Regions from separate parts of the Homo sapiens genome. Here region 2 is linked to region 1. Evidence: fine-mapped expression QTL. A gene starts in region 1. The other region holds a variant in brackets. All regions are shown on one strand. Distances are from middle to middle.

Region 1 (2,919 bases):
CTGCACGCCAGCCTGGGCAACAGAGTTAGACTCCGTCTCAGAACAAACAAACAAACATACAAACAAACACAGAAAATATGTAGTGTTGGTGAGGAGGTGGAGAAATTGGAACCTTTGTGCATTGTTGTTAGTAATGTAAAATGGTGATGCTGCCATGGAAAACAGTATGGGGATTCCTATAAAAATAAAAAATAAAATTTCCATATGATCTAGCAATCCACTTCTGGGTATATATCCAAAAGAACTGAAAACAGGATCTTAGAGATATCTGCACACCCGTGTTCACTGCAGCATTATTCACAATAGCCAAGAGGCGGAATCAGCAGAAATGTTTATGGACAGGTAACTGGGTGGCATATACATACAGTGGAATATTATTCAACATTTATAAAAAGAAGAAAATCCTGTCATATACTACACTATGGATGAGCCTTGTGGATATCATGCTAAGTGAAATAAGCCAGGTCCTAAAAGACAAACACCTCATGATTCTACTTATATGAAGTATCTAAAGTAGTTAAACTCTTAGAAACAGAAGTAGAATGGTGGTTGGCAGGGGATGGAGAAAGAGGAAAAAGTTGTTCCATGGATATAAAGTTTCTGTTTTGCAAGAAGAATAAGTTCTAGAGATCTGTTGCGCAACAATGTGCATGTGGTTAACACTACTGTACACTTAAAAATGGTTAAAATGGTAAATTTTATATTTTGTGTTTTTAACCACCACTACCAAAAAAAAAAAAAAAAAGCTAGGGAACTAAATTGTTATTTTGAAAACACACATAAGGGAAAGAATCGGCTGGGTGTGGTGGCTTACACCTGTAATCCCAGCATTTTGAGAGGCTGAGGCAGGAGGATCACTTGAGGCCAGAGTTCAAAACCAACCTGGGCAACATAACAAGATGCCCATCTCTAAAAAAAAAAAAATTAGCCAGGGGTGGTGGCACTTACTTAAATGGGAGGACTGCTTGAGCACAGGAGTTTGAGGCTGCAGTGAGCTATGATCACACCACTGTATTTCAGCCTGGGTGACAGAGAGCCTGTCTCTAAAATTAAAAAACAAAAAAAAAGTAAGAGAATCAAGCACCCATACTGCCTTTCCTACATTAATTGTATCTCAGGAGCCAAATAGTTGAAGGGAGGTTTCTCTTTGTAGAAGAATTGTGGTTAACAAATGAAGTAATATTGAAATTTTTTAGGCTCAAGCGATGCTCCCATCTAAGCCTCAGCCTACCGAGTAGCTGGGACTACGGGCACGCGCCACCACATCCAGCTAATTTTTAATTTTTTTTTTTTTTTTGTAGAGACAGAATTCTCGCTGTGTTGGCGAGGCTGGTCTCGAACTCCTGGGCTCAAACGATCCTCCCTACCCGGCCTCCCAAAGTGCTGGGATTACAACAGTGAGCCACCGCGCCCACCAGAGCCAATTATTTTTAGATGAGGAAACTGAAATTCCCAAAGGGGGAATCCCCGTGTGAGAAAGCCTCGTGTAGGTGAGCTTTCCAGCATATGCCCGCCTTCTAGATTTAACCTCTGAAAACTAAATTTTAAGGTACCTTTGCTTCCAGGGGAAACCAATTCTGCCTACTTGGGAAGCCAGAACATGACCGCGTAGGCAAGACCTAGCTCTGCGCACGCGCAGAGCCACCACGTCTGGCGTTCGCGTGAGAACCTTCTGGGCGTGGGCTTCCTGCGGCTGAGTGGCAGCTTCCATCCGGTGGGTTTTGCTCGGCGCACCCGGGAGGCGGGGCCAGCGAGGCAAGATGGAGTTAGTGCAGGTCCTGAAACGCGGGCTGCAGCAGATCACCGGCCACGGCGGTCTCCGAGGCTATCTACGGGTTTTTTTCAGGTAGGCGGCCAGAGCCATGCTCTTGGCCTCTGGGGCTGGACTTTCGCTGGCTGATTTCTTGGAAGGGGTCCCAGGCTCGGGTCACCTTGGAGAATCCACAGCTCTTGTCAAGGACAACCGCCCCAATCTCTGCCTTGCCACCCCCAGGCTGGTCTCTGTCCCATATATCCCCGATACAAGACCGAAGCTATCTGTAGAGTCAGAGCTGTGACTCGGAGGCAAGGGCATCTGGGCTCCCCTCTTTTCCCACGCCCTGGAGAGTAATGAGGATTACAAGACATTAACTCAGTGACCCTGGTAAAGTTTTTTTCCCTGCACTGCCGTACAGTTCCTTGTCTGTAAGGCGTTGAAGGTAATAATGATGGTCCCTTCTCTTCCTGACATTCACTGATCCCACGAGCAGCATAGTTTCGCAGAAACCTAAATGGAGACCCAGAGTGGAATGAAAGAGCCTGGAGACCTTCGTATCATTGTAAGAAGATGAAATACTTTGGCTTTTTGATTTCCTAAAGGTTTTGCTAATTCCAGTGCCTCCTGGCTGAGGGATAGTAGATACAAGTAGTCCTGTAATCTGAAGAGACTACATTTATATTTTTAGTGTAATTTGAGCACATCAGTTGTCAATTCATCTTTTCCCATCCCCAGCACTTCTTCATTTTGCTAGTTGATGCAGCAGCCCTTGTGTCTGAAAGTTGTTACTCTCACTTTATTTCCGTTTATGTTTTGAACTAAGAATCATTCTAAAATGTCTGTTTTCTTTTGGGTATTCACAGGACAAATGATGCGAAGGTTGGTACATTAGTGGGGGAAGACAAATATGGAAACAAATACTATGAAGACAACAAGCAATTTTTTGGTGAGTGCAGTATTTTTTAGTATGAATAATTGGATTGGGATTGGGATTTGATTTGAGTCTATTTTCCATATTATGCAATGAGCTTTTACAAAACACCTGGAAAAGGATGAAAAACTCAATAGAAAATGAAAAAAGATAATTTACAGAAAAAAGAAAAGTAAACAGCCAATGAAGGTATGGAAAAATGCTCATTCTCACTTGTAACAACAGAAATGCA
Region 2 (2,919 bases), 36 kb after region 1:
AGCCCTATGTCCTGAGTATCCCTTACTTAGCTGGATCAGGTTGAATTCAGTGCCTTCAAGAGACTATTCAGTGTGCTGTTTTGGCTTTTTGAGCCCTGGACTTTTGAGACAGCATATAACATACAGGTGTTTTGCACTTATTTATTTACCTGGTGACCTGAAAAGCTGGCAGAGCAAAAATAGTCCCTGTAGGTGGCCCAGTCTGCAGTCCAAGCAGCTCTGCTGCTCAGCCCTCTCAAAGTCTATCTGGCTGATTGGGAGACTTATTGAAGTCAGAGACAAATTTCTCCAGGAGAATCACAATGGAAGCCCACAGGACTTTGGAGCAAGGTCATACCCCCTTCTGGAAGATTACTATTCTCCTTTTGAGAAACGGTTCTAATTTGCTTCTGGGGATGTTGGAGGCTATGGGACACCAGGTGCTATTTAATCCATCTACTCATAAAGTTGACCATTTCCAGCAGCACTCCATCACCTAGCAGGTGGGACCAGACAGGCCATGAAGACACATTTCCTTTGAACAGATTTCTCCCGACCCTGTGCCTTTAACTACTCTATTCCCACACCTCGCCCCTACCAATCTGTCCCTTTACCCTTGTGGAGCATTATTATCCAGTTAACTGAAAATGAAAAAAACCAAACCTGGCTTACAGATACCATGAACAATAGGCACTATCAGCTAGAAATGTACTGTGTATATTTGGGGTGGTCTTGAAGGACAGTAGAGGGCAAATCTCAATTTGTAGGCAGAATTCCAAGCACTGTCTTTTATCATGTACTTTGACTTGAGAGAAACATGATCTGAGGTGAGGATCTGTAACCGTAACCAGTCACTGGCTAGATAGTCAGAGATGGAGAAAAGCAACATGGAAGATTAGTGTAAAAGTTTTGGGAGGAGCTTGGCAAATGAACCTTGAGGCTTGGAGCTGTAATCCAAAAAGATTTAGAACAAAGTAGCCAGATGATTACTGAGATCACCTTCTGGGAACAAATCTTTGTCTCAGTGCCTACTTCTTGAAGATCCCAACAGAAAACACATATCTAAGCCCAGTATCGTCAATGCGGCAAGTTCATTTCACGGGACTTCTTCCATATTGGAGGGAGAGATGATTTGTTTTTGTGGGAATAGGCACTTATTCTGAATTTGGGTCTGTTTTCCTTGCCTATCATGCCTTGGTCAACATCAGCATTCATGGGATTAGAATGCTTTCTACCTTGTCATATGTAGGACAGTGTCCGTGGTGGAGAAACTCACTTCACAGAAAAGAAAAGAGGCCTAGTGCAGTGGCTCACACCTGTAATCCCAGCAGTTTGGGGGGCCAAGGCAGGCGGATCACCTGAGGTCAGGAATTCGAGACCAGCCTGACCAATATGATGAAACCCCGCCTCTACTAAAAATAGAAAAATTAGTCAGGTGTGGTGGCATGCGCCTGTAATCCCAGCTACTTGGGAGGCTGAGACAGGAGAATCACTTGAATCCGGGAGGCGGAGGTTGCAGTGAGCCATTGTACTCCAGCCTGGGCAACAAGAGTGAAACTCCCGTCTCAAAAAAAAAAAGACAGTGGAACTGCCTGTGGGAGTCCCTGCTTGTGTTTATGATGTGCCTTACTGACCTACCTCTCAGATATCATCTCTCATTTCTCCCT[G/C]CATCACCCACTACAGGTCAGCCACACAAGCCTCTGTCTAATCTTCAAAGACTGGATTCATTCTCGTCTTAGGTCTTTGCACTTGCTCTTCCTTCTGCCTAGAATATTAACATCTTTGTGTTGCTCCTTTTTTTGGTATCATTCATATCTTACTTTACAAGTATCACCTCCTCAACAGAATGTTCTGTGTCCATCTAATCTAAAGTAGCTTCCTCAGGAACTTCCTATTATTGTTTATTTGTATGAATTTCCTTGTTTTATTTTATTCATAGTACTTATTGTTACTTTTTGGGAAAAGGCCTGAACAAAATTATTCCAGTAAAGAATCTGTGTATTGAGCATTTACTAAACAGCCACTGTCCACCTACAAAAGCACTCTACATGTAGACATAATGAAGCAAAACTGTATTGATTAGATTTAGGGCAGGGTGCAGTGGCTCACGCCTGTAATCCCAGCACTTTGGAAGGCTGAGGCAGGCAGATCATCTGAGGTCAGGCGTTTGAGACTAGCCTGGCCAACATGGCAAAAACCCGTCTCTACTAAAAATACAAAAATTAGCCATGCATGGCGGCACATGCCTGTAGTGCCAGCTACTCAGGAGGCTAAGGTAGGAGAATCGCCTGAATCTGGGAGGCAGAGGCTGCAGTGAGCTGAGATCACGCTGCCGCACTCTGGCCTGGGCCACAGAGAGACACTCTGTCTCAAAAAAAATAATAATAATTTTTGTTGGAGGTGAGATAGTGACTGAAATTAAACAGCGGCAGCCCAGAACAGTAAATTCTGAAGTTTCAGAAAGTAAGAATTCTTGTGGGAAATAACATCTAAACATGCAAATAGTTATACATAGGAAATTTCTAAAGTTTCATTAAGCAATTTTTACAGGAAAAAAAGAACACTAATTACCATGATGTCATGCTGTGTTTCCAAAAAATTGGTGATCATTTCAAGGGTTTGCAATCACTTGTGTGATCAGCTTGCAAAGACCTGTCGGTCTATATCCCCGCTTTCAAGTCATCCTTCTATGAATGGAGATGTCCTGTTCCTAACATTCTTCTCAAATACAAGTTAATTCATACACTGGTGCCAAGTGCCCATAGTATGAAATGCACACATCATAAGAGCATAGTAATGGAGCCATATTTATCAGCTCTGGCTCCAGGAAGTTAATGTCTGTGTATATTTTTTGTTTTTTAGGCCGAGTCTCACTCTGTTGCCCAGGCCGGAGTGCAGTGGCGCAATCTCGGCTCACTGCAACCTCCATCTCCTGGGTTC

Evidence for each region. PIP is the estimated chance that this variant, and not a neighbour inherited with it, causes the effect.
Region 2: its variant is the best candidate, but not a certain one, in a credible set for the expression of NDUFA12 in blood mononuclear cells (TOPMed, PIP 0.89).

Annotation. Positions count from the first base shown.
Region 1 is chr12:95,002,522-95,005,440 of GRCh38, reverse strand. It overlaps NDUFA12 (NADH:ubiquinone oxidoreductase subunit A12), which reads left to right and starts at 1,744. Exons shown (of 4, transcript NM_018838.5): 1 at 1,744-1,846; 2 at 2,620-2,702. The coding sequence starts at 1,761. RefSeq lists enhancers at 1,622-2,021, 1,486-2,113.
Region 2 is chr12:94,966,663-94,969,581 of GRCh38, reverse strand. No RefSeq gene overlaps it. Among named protein-coding and RNA genes, the nearest start is that of NDUFA12, 36 kb to the left of the region's middle. The variant G/C (reference allele first, on the strand shown) is at 1,647.